2 separate regions of the Homo sapiens genome follow, and region 2 is linked to region 1. A link means that fine-mapping ties the variant in region 1 to the expression of a gene that starts in the linked region. Tissue or cell type: whole blood. Region 1 holds a variant in brackets; the other region holds the start of a gene. All regions are shown on one strand. Distances are from middle to middle.

Region 1 (5,673 bases):
CAGGTGGCCCTTCTCTGTCACAGTTCTTACGTGTCATCATCTGCTGCCTTCACCTAGGTATGGTCAGGTGCCCTCATCTGTACCCATAGTGGGAGATCCCTGAATGAGCTGCGTGGACTTAGAGAGCAGGATATGCCTCATTGAAGGCTTACCACCCTCATCCTTGCCCTTACAGGACCTGATGGAGAAGGTGATGGTTCTTAACAGGAGCTTGGAGCAACTGCGGGGTCCTCATGGGGTGAGCCCAGGCCCTGCCACAACCTACAGGGTCACTCAGTATGCCAACCTCCTGGCAGCCCAGGGCAGCCTGGCCACTGCCATGAGCTTTCTACCCAGGGACTGTGCTCAGGTAAGTGGGGCCATGTGGAGAGAGCAAACCATTTCATTCAGTCATCTAACATTGATTGAGCACTTCCATATTCCAGGCACTATGCTAATGCTGAAGCTCCTAGGATAGATAAGATGGAATCCCTTAAGCACCTCACAATCTACTGGGGGAAGATCAGATGTTGATGACTTATAGTGCCATAACAGAAGCTTATACTGAGCACTGTGGGAGTCCAGGGAAGGGACTGATTTTTGCCTGGAGAAGTCAAGGAAGGCTTCTCAATGGTTAAAACAGCTGAGCTGGACCTTCAAAGAGAAGTAGCTTACCAGCAGATATAGAGCATTCTAAGCAGAAAGAATAGCAAGGAGGGAGGCATGCAAGTGTTTGGCAGGGATTCAGGAACCTTGAGTCATCTCTAAGGGGGCTAGAGTATAGAGCGGGGGTGTCCAAGGGTCAGAATACAGTCGTGGGTGCTTAGTTTCTGTTTCTGGTTGGGCCAGTAAAGCCCCTTCCTCATCCCGGTTTTCCACTTATCACTAGAGACAAACCAAAAACCATGGCTTCAGGCTGCTAAAAACCTAAAACAAAACAAAACAGAACAGAACAACAACAACAACAAAATAACACAGGTTGGACAAGCTTGGTGTAGAGGGTCAGCTGAAATTTGACTGCTACCTGGGGCCTTGATTGTTTTAATTTCTTGACACAGCTCTTCCTCATTAAAACTTATAGCCACCAGTTCAGCAGCTAAGAGATCGGCTTTTTCATGCTCAAGGTTCTGCTGTCTTGGGCCAACAGTCTCCCCCTTTCCCCTTCCCCCGGATTGTTGTGGGAGCTACCCTCCACTCTAAAGAGACATCATCTTACAGATTGGGATCCCAGCCTTCTCACCAGGTAAGACCTCGTTTGTTCATTCATTTGTTCATTCAATAATACGTGCCAAGCATGGTTCTGGGCACTTGGAATATATTGTGAACAAAACTGATGAAAATTCCCAACTTCCATAGAACATAGATTCAGTTCTTTTTATAATAAATAACTGTTTATTGAACTACTAGGCTCTTAGGACATAAAGGTGCAAAAATTGTGATACTTGCCCTCAAGTAGCTCATAGTGTAGTCGAAAGATAGATATGTAAAAAATAGCTACAGTAGGCCTGGCGTGGTGGCTCACGCCTGTAATCCCAGCACTTTGGGAGGCCAAAGCGGGCAGATCATGAGGTTTGGAGTTCGAGACCATCCTAGCCAACATGGTGAAACCCCATCTCTACTGAAAATACAAAATAATGATCTGGGCATGGTGGCACGTGCCTGTAGTCCCAGCTACTCGGGAGGCTGAGGCAGGAGTATCACTTGAACCTGGGAGGTGGAGGTTGAAGTGAGCCCAGATCATACCACTGCACTCCAGCCTGGCAACGGAGCGAGACTCCGTCTCAAAAAAAAAAAAAAAAAAATAGCTACAGTAAAATTCATAAATACCATGATTGGGGTATGGCAAGGGGCTATAAGATCACACAGATGAAAGTAGTTTACTCTGTATGGTGAGGTTGTGGGGGCAGTCCAGGGAGTGTTTCAGAACAAGTCGGATGTTTGATCAGAGTTTCAAAGATTAAAAGGTTTTAGGCAAAGGGATGAGCAAGTGAAGACTGTTTCAGGCACAGAGAATAGCATGTACAAAGGCACTGAAGCAAGAGTAAGCCGAAGCCTTTTGAGAATTACTATTATTTAATTGGGGCTGCAACACAGGTGTTTGTGGCTGTGAAGTTAGATGAAGCTGGAACAACAGGTAGGAGTTAGATCACTAAGGACCTAGCATTCTGTGCTAAAGAACTTAAACTTGACAGGGAGGAGCTATTGAACAGTTTTAGGAAGAGTGACATAATTAGCTGTATGTTAGGAAGGGCCAGGCTGGAGGGAGTTAGGCTATAGTAAGGGATGATGAAGACATGAAATAACTAAAGCTAGCCAGTGAGGTTGGATTTGAAATACTTAGTACTTAGTAGATAGAACTGACAGAATTGCTGATAGTTTGGAGAGGTGTGTGTGTGGTTGGGGGTACTGAGGGAGAGGAAAGAGGTTCTGGCCAAAGTGCCCGGGGGGATTGGATACTGTTAAGATGTGAGGCCAGAAGCTTGCTAGAGCTGCCGGAGAACAGAATCCAGGGAGATTTGGATACAGTTACCAGGCAGAAGCTCTGATGGCTCATCTTGTCCCACCTTCAATCCCCACCCTAATTCCTTTTCTTTTTTTCCCTCCCTTTCCTCCCTCCCTTTCTTCCCTCCCTTGTCTCCCCTTTTCCCCTTCCCCTCCTCTCCTCTCTCTCTCCCTCTCCCCGTCTCTTTTCATTTAAAAATAACCATAGATTCACAGGAGGTGGCAAAGAAATGTACTGGGATGTCTCCTGCATCCCAACAACACCCCGCCCCGTGTCGGCATCTCACACAACCACAGTACGCTATCAAAACCAAGAAATTGCCATTAGTACAATCCATGGATTCAGATTTCAGATTCAGTCTCCACCAGTTTTACATATTGTTAGGTGTGTGTTTATGTGTGTTTATGCAGTTTTGTCACATTGTGGTGTGTAACCACCACCAAAATCAAGATACTCAATTTTACCATCACCACAAGACTCTCT[T/G]GTGTTACCTCTTTTATAGCTGCACTTATTCTGCCTCCCTCATCCTTGGCTTCACCAATATGTTCTCCAGCTCTATCATTGTTATTTAACGATTGTTACTTAAATAGAATCATGGCAATATGTATCCTTTTGAGATTGGCTTTTCTCCCTTAGCATAACTTCTTTGAGGTTCATTCAAGTTGTTCTGTGTACCAGTAGTTCACTCATTCTTATTGCAGAGTAGTATTCCATGGTGTGAATGTACCATGGTTTTAATTTTTTTTTTTTTTGAGATGGAGTCTTGCTTTGTTGCCCAGGCTGGAGTGCAGTGGCGCGATCTTGGCTCACTGCAAGCTCTGCCTCCCAGGTTCACGCCATTCTCCTGCCTCAGCCTCCCGAGTAGCTTGTACTACAGGCGCCCGCCACCACGCCCGGATAATTTTTTGTATTTTTAGTGGAGATGGGGTTTCACCATGTTAGCCAGGATGGTCTTGATCTCCCGACCTCGTGATCCGCCCGCCTCGGCCTCCCAAAGCGCTGGGATTATAGGCATGAGCCACCGCGCCCGGCCCCAGTTTTAATTTTTTTAGCCATTCAAACTTTGAAGGACATTCGGATAGTTTCCAATTTGGGGTATTATGAGTAAAGCTGCTATGAGTATTCAAATACAAGTTCCTAACTGACATCTTTACTAGGTTCAGTCTTTCAGTCCATGAATGTGGCATGTTTCTCCATCAGCGTTTTATAATTTTTGTCACACCAATCCTGTACATATTTTGTCCAATTCATACTTAAGTATTTAATTTTTTATATCACCTGTCAGCTCATGCCTACTAAGTATTTAATTTTTTTCTTCAGCAGTTTAAAATCAAATTTCTTGGTTTCCACTTGTTCATTGTGAGTATATAGAAATGCAGTTGATTTTTATGTGTTGATCTGGTTATATCCTGTGACTTTCCTGAATAGTTATAGAAGTTTTTTGTGGATTCCATGGGGTTTTCTAATAGACAGTCATGCTGTCTACAAATCTGCAAATAGATAGTTTTCTTTCTTTTCAATCTATATGCATTTAATTTCTTTCTTATGCCTTATTGTAGTGACTAGGACTTCCAGTCTCTGTTAAATAAGAATAGTGAACATAAGCCAGGCGCTGTGGCTCATACCTGTAATCCCAGCACTTTGGGAAACTGAGGTGGGTGGATCACCTAAGGTCAGGAGTTGAGACCAGCCTGGCCAACATGGTGAGACCCCATCTCTACTAAAAATATAAAATTAACCGGGCATGGTGGCGCATGCCTGTAATCCCAGCTACTCAGGAGGCAAGGCTGGAGAGTCGCTTGAACCCGGGAGGTGGAGGTTGCAGTGAGCTGAGATTGTGCCATTGCACTCCAGCCTGGGCACCAAGAGCGAAACTCTGTCTCAAAAAAAATAAATAAATAGTGAACATGAATGTTCTTGCCTTGTTTCCAGTCTTAGAGGAAAAACATTCAATATTTCAGCATTAAGCATGATGTTAGCTTTAGGTTTTTCACAGATGCTCTTTATGAGACCAAGGACATTTCCCTCTATTCCTTGTGTCTTAATCCATTTTGTGCCACTATAACAGAATACCACAGACTGGGAAATTTATAAAGAACAGAAATTTATTTCTTATGGTTCTGGAGTCCAAGATCAAGGCACCAGCAGGTATGGTTCCAGCAGGTACGGTTCCACCCTCTAGTTGCAAGATGGTGCCTTGCTGCTGTGTTCTCACATGGCAGATAGCAGATGTGCAAGAGAAAGCAAACCCACTCCTGCAAGTCATTTTTGTAGTGGCATTAATCCATTAATGAGGGCAGAGCCCTCATGACCTAAACACTTACAAAAAGTCCCACTTTCCCAACACTGTTGCATTGAGGATTCAGTTTTCAACACATGACTTTGGGGAGCATATTCAGACCATAACACCTTGTGTACTAGATCATGAATCGGTGTTGAATTTTGTCAAATGTTTTTTCTGCATCATTTCTGTCATCATGTTATTTTCATTCTTTAGTTTGTTGGTATAGGGGATTAAATTGATTGGTTTTTAAATATCTTGGATCAGCTTTGTATGACCTGGAATCAATCCCACTTTCTTGTGGAATATTATTTTTTATATACATTATTTGATTTGCTAAAATTTTGTTGAGGATTTTTGTGTCTAAGTTCATGAGAAATATTGATGTGTAGTTTTATTTTCTGCTATCTTTTTCTGTTGCTGGCATCAGGGTAATACTGGCCTCATGAAATTAGTTAGGAAGTGTTCCTTCTATTTTCTGGAAGAGATTACATAAACTTTGCATTAATTCTTTGACTGGTGAAATTCTCCAGTGAAACCATCTAGGCCTGGAGATTTCTTTTTTGGGAGCTTTTAAATTACAAACTCAATTTCTTTAATGGTTATAGGACTATCCAGATCTTCTTTCATTGTGACTGAGTTTTGGTAGTTTATGGTTCTTGAGGAATGGGTCCATTTCTGATAAGTTGTCAGATTTATGAATGTAAAGTTTTCTGTAGTATTCGTTTATATTTTTAATGGCTTCAGGGTCTGTTGTAATAGTCCCTGTTTCATCTCTGATGATGATTTATATCTTCTTGCTTTTTATCTTTATCAGTTTTTAGATGTTTATCAATTTTATTGATTTTTTTCCTCAAAGAACTAGTTTTTGTTTCATTAATTTTCCCTATTATTTTTCTGTTTTCTATTA
Region 2 (5,673 bases), 41 kb before region 1:
AAAAATCCCATCATTATGACAACTGCTAAGTGTTAAGAAGAAGAAAAAAAGATATTTCAAATCCATTCACTTAGCCACAGACTGCTGATAAGGAGTCAGGAACAGGAGTGAGTGAAGCAAGAGACTAGAGAGAAACCCAGGGTTGGACACCAAATGCGAGAGGGTAATTCACCGTGAAGTACTGAGCGAAAGCAATTCCCCAGAGGCAGTGTTATAGTGTGGGACTGAATACTGTCTCGGACCTACATAAGAGGCTGTCCTCATAAGCAGGAATAAAAGCAGAGAGGAAGAATCACTGTCTTGTGTGTCTTGTGTTGCTGTTGTGATAGGAAAAACAAATTTAATCTGATCTTCCCTAAGCTAGAGAATCCTAACCTTCTTTACTGCAGAATCACAACAAACTATACAACTTTTCAGGTTGAACTATCCTCAGTCATCACAATACTTAAGGACAATGGCTACAAACAGGCATTTTCAGAGCTAAATCCAGTGACAAACATTTTTGTTTGGCCCCCTGCAACTTTTTTTCTTTAAATCTGATTTAGTTGCTCCATTTAAAGTCAAAAGATTTTAAATAAAAATCCTGATTTTGAACTTCTCTTGAAAATCGGAATATCTCCCAACCCTAGAACTGCACTCCAAAACTGAAGCAAGCAGAGTCAAGTAATGACCTCTCACCATGGTTTTTTGTTTTAGTTTTTAATTTTGCAGAGACTAGCTCTCACCACGTTTCCCAGGCTGGTCTTGAACTCCTGGACTCAAGCAATCCTCCCACCTCGGCCTCCCAAAGTGCTGGGATTACAGGCATGAGCCACCCCCGCCGGCCTTGGCTTCTCACTTTGAACAAGGCTTATGCCTTCAGCCTCATCACTGATTTCACACAGACGATATTACTCCTTCCATTCACCTGCCTGACCCTTCTAGGCAACTAACTCTTTATGAGGAAGAAGATGGGAACCCAGAGATTCATAGCTCAAGTTTAATCATTCCCTCATCCCTCAAGCTACAGAACTAGCTGGCTGTAGCACCAAGAACCACTAAGAACTCAAACCCCTTAAAGGCTGGAAGACCAGACTACTCCTTCAACTGGAATCCAGAGATGGGAGAGGCCAATCTCTAATTGACCCAATTCTGCCACACCTTCAAACAAGTATAGGAAAGAAAAATGAGTGTCCTAAATCCAACAGAAAATTAAGCTTTCGGAATTTACCTCTCTTCCCCTCCTCGCTGCTGTATATCCTGCAGTTTCTCAACGAACTCATGAAATTTCATTTCTTCCCTGTTGGACCTCGGCTTAAAGTTCTGGAAATTGGCCATCTTCTTCTCATCATAGTACAAGAACTTGTGGGTGCTGGCACTGTACACAGAGAAGTCTCCATTGCCAATATTCTCTTGCAGGTATTCAAGGTCCCATTTCAGGGCAGGATACACAAGATTTGTGTCGGTCAGCACCACAGGCTCCTAAATGAAAACAACAGGTGAAAAACACCAAATGAAGTAATGCCAAGGAGCCGGTGGGTTGGCCTCCATGATCCCAACTACTTCTCAACTTCAGAATAATTTCTCCTGTTAATCAGCACGAACCCCTAAGTTCCGTATCTCCTCGCCTTTCTCTCCATCTTCCCATAGGCCCTAGTCTAGAGCCCTGCCAGTCTCCCATCTCTTTCACCATTCACCTCTGACCTCTCAACCGGGTACCTTCCTCCTCTCCCTTTAGACGCGGCCCCGCCCCCCACCTCATTCTCAATAAGCTCCTCTGCCCGGGGGTCGCTCTGACTCAGACGCGGAATGGGCCTAGTCGGGAAGCTATAACTGCGCAACTGGGATTCATCCCAGGCGGGGCCGAGGGCTCCAGCCTCCTCCCGGGGCTCTCCAGAGCCAGAGGCCACAGCCTCCGCCGCTGTCGCCGCCATCTCCGCCGCCAGGGACGGCCCCCACCGGAACCGGAAGCTCCGCCTATTCCGGACCCCAAAAAAAAAAAAACAAAAAAACCACACACCCAACGGAAACCATAGAGATGAGCTGCGAGAGAGAGCGGTCCAGAGACATAAAGAACGCGGAGCCGAGGCCTGAGGGTGCGCCTCCTAATGGTAGTATGCAGCTCTACATCCTAGGCTCCACTGCTGAAGAAATGGGGCTAGACACTAGTCCCACGGAATAGGGACGACCTGGTAGAGCAAAACACAAAAAAAGTTGCCCCATGTGCCCGAGTCTACACAAGAGTCAAAGAAGGAAGCAAGTTCAGTTAGGCATTAAACTTTACACTCATGAATGGGGAGAAAAGCAAACTCTTGACCCACCTAAAGAAGTCAGAAGGAAAAGCAGTGATCACATTGGTAGATGTAGAGCAAAGGCTGACTGAAGGCTTAGGCAAAAGATATACAGCAAGTTGAATTCTTTCAAAATCAAAGACAGTTTTCTTTTGTTTAGCATCATTTGATTTTTCTGCCTATATCACCATGTCTCCTACTTGAATATATGTTTGCCGTGAATCGAATGTTATTAGAGGCCAACCATGGACATCTCACATTTTCAAACAATCTATACTGATTATAAAAGGCCATATTAATACCTCTATTGCTTACTTGGACAGTTCTTATGGCTGGCTGTGAGAGGCCCAATTCTAAGATGTATCCCAAGATTTGTACCCTACGGTGTACACATCCTGTATACATTTCTCCCCTTAAAAGAAAACACGACTGTGAATATGATAGAGCATCACTCCTGTAATTAGGTTAGCTTATATGACAAGGATGTAATTAAAGTCCCTAATCAATTAACTTTAAGGCAGTCAAAAAGAGGTGATTTATCCTGGTGGGCTTCATCTTATCACTCTAGCCCTTTAAATCAGGGCTAGAGGTCAGAGACAGAATCTAAGAGATTTGAAGCCACAGCACAGCTGTCCTGTTCACCTTGAAGGAGCAAACTGCCATATGGCAGGAAATGGCAGGTGGACTCTAGGAGCTGAGAAAGGCTCCTGGGTGACAGCCAACAAGAAAGTGGGCACCTTAATCCTACAAATGCAAGTAACTGAATTCTGGCAACAACCACTGAACTTGGGAAAGGACACACACGGAGCCTCAGATGAGATCGCTAACCCAGCCAACACCTTGATTTCAGCCTGATAAGACCCTGAGCTGAGGACTCAGCCAACCAGTACCTGGACTCATGGAATATGTGAGAAAATAAATTGGTGTTTTGGGCTGCTAAATTTACAGTAATTTGTTATGCAGTAATAGAAATGAATGCACTGGCTTAACTATGTAATTATGCTACATAGTAACCATGCTACACCAAACCGATAATAGGGCTACCTCTGTGGAAGTGTTTGAGGCTGCAGGGGGCAATCAAGGCTTTCATTTTATCTGCAGTGTTTGAATTTTTTTTTTTTTTTTGAGCTAGGGTCTCACTCTGTCACCCAGGCTGGAGTGCAGTGATGCAATCTTGGTTCACTGCAACCTCCACCTCCCCAGCTCAAGCAATCCTCCTACCATAGCCTCCCAAGTAGCTGGGACTAAAGGCACACACCACCATGCCGGACTAATTTTTTTTCCTTCTGTAGAGAAAGGGTTTTGCCATGTTGCTCAGGCTGAATGTTTGAATTTTTACAAGAATGTATTAATTCATAACCTTGGGAATTAAAAATAAATTAGGCCAGGCATGGTGGCACATGCCTGTAATCCCAGGACTTTTCAAGGCTGAGGCAGGAGGATTACTTGAGCCTGGGTGTTCCAGATCAGCCTGGGCAACATAGCAAGACCTCATCTCTACAAAAAATTTTAAAAATTAGCTCGGTGCGTTGATGCATGCCTGTAGTCCCAGCTACTAGGGAGGCTGAGGTAGGAGGATTGTTTGAGCCTGGGAGGTGCAGGCTGCAATGAGCCATGATCATGCCACTGCACTCCAGCCTGGATGACAGAGCAAGATCCTGTCTTACTAAAAATAAATAAATTAATTAAGATCAAGAAGATTAAAAGAACTAAAATCAGTAATGAAACAGGGATATTACTGCTGACTTTACCCCCCAAAAAAAGCATATAAGGACATACTGTAAACAATTGTATGTCAAAAAATTACAGAACCTAGATGAAATGGACAGATTCCTAGAAAGGCACAAGCTATAATAGCTGATTCAAGAAGAAATGGAAAATCTGAATAGACCTGTAACAAGAGATTGAATTAGGAATCAAAAACATCCCATAAAGAAAAGCCCAGAAACTGGGCATGGTGGCTTACATCTGTAATCCCTACACTTTGGGAGGCAGAGGCAAGCGAATCACTTGAGCCCAGAAGGTCGCGACCAGACTGGGCAACATGGAGAAACCCCATCTCTACCAAATCCCCCCAGCCAAAAAAAAAAAAAAAAAAAAATTAGCAGGCATGGTGGCACGCCTGTAGTTCCAGCTATTCGGGAAGCTGAAGTGGGAGGATCACTTGAGCCCGGAATGTGGAGGTTGCAGTCAACTGAGATTGCACCACTGCACTCCAGCCTTTTGAGACAGAGCTAGGCCTTGTCTCAAAAGAAAAGAAAAGGCTGGGCACAGTGGCTCATGCCTGTAATCTCAGAACTTTGGGAGGCCGAGGTCGGGGGGACCACCTGAGGTCAGGAGTTCGAGACTAGCCTGGCCAACATGGTAAAACCCCCATCGCTATCAAAAATACAAAAATTAGCCAGGCATGGTGGTGCACGCCTGTAGTCCCAGCTACTTGGGAGGCTGAGGCAGGAGAATCGCTTGAATCCCGGAGGCGGAGGTTGCAGTGAGCTGAGATCGTGCCACTGACTCCAGCCTGGGCAACAGAGCAAGATTCCATCTCAGGAAAAAAAAAAAAGAAAAAGAAAAAGAAAAGCTCAAGACCAGATAGATTTACTGATGAATCCTACCAAACATTTTTTAAAAAATTAACACTGGTCTGGGTGCAGTGGCTCATGTCTGGAATCCCAGCACTTTGGGAGGCCACGGCGGGTGAATCACGAGGTCAGGAGACCGAGACCATCCTGGCTAAAACGGTAAAACCCTGTCGCTACTAAAAATACAAAAAAATTAGCCGGGCATGGTGGCGGGTACCTGTAGTCCCAGCTACTCAGGAGGCTGAGGCAGGAGAATGGCGTGAACCTGGGAGGCGGAGCTTGCAGTGAGCCGAGATTGCACCACTGCACTCCAACCTGGGCAACAGAGCGATACTCCGTCTCAAAAAAAAAAAAAAAGAAAGAAAGAAAACTATAGACCAATATTTCTTATGAATATAGATGCAAAAATCCTAACAGAATACTAGCAAACTCAGTGTAACACCATATAAAAGAATTATATACTATGACCAAGTGGGATTTATTCCAGGAATGCAAGGTCAGTTCAACATCTCAGAATGATCAATATAACACACCATGTAGTAATCAATATTTTATTGATTAATATTTATAATCAACATAATACACTATATTAGTAAAAGAAAAAACCCTACATGATCATCTCAATAGACACAGAAAAAGCTTTTGACAAACCCCAACACCCCTTCCTGATAAACACAGGGTTCCAAATGATACTGTAAAAAAGCAAAAAAACCTACAGAGTCAGAGAAAATATTTATGAATTGTGTATCTGATCAGGGAATTGTATCTAGAATACATAAAGAATCCTTACAACTCAACAATAAAAAGACAAACCAATTTAAAAA

The links. PIP is the estimated chance that this variant, and not a neighbour inherited with it, causes the effect.
Region 2: HIF1AN starts here. The variant in region 1 is fine-mapped to the expression of HIF1AN in whole blood (TOPMed, PIP above 0.99).

Annotation. Positions count from the first base shown.
Region 1 is chr10:100,490,934-100,496,606 of GRCh38, reverse strand. SEC31B (SEC31 homolog B, COPII component) reads left to right here. Exons shown (of 26, transcript NM_015490.4): 18 at 176-349; 19 at 1,061-1,222. Among named protein-coding and RNA genes, the nearest start is that of SEC31B, 26 kb to the left of the region's middle. The variant T/G (reference allele first, on the strand shown) is at 2,966.
Region 2 is chr10:100,532,199-100,537,871 of GRCh38, reverse strand. It overlaps HIF1AN (hypoxia inducible factor 1 subunit alpha inhibitor), which reads right to left and starts at 1,929. Exons shown (of 8, transcript NM_017902.3): 1 at 1,737-1,929; 2 at 1,211-1,461. The coding sequence starts at 1,913. RefSeq lists enhancers at 1,950-2,009, 2,080-2,169.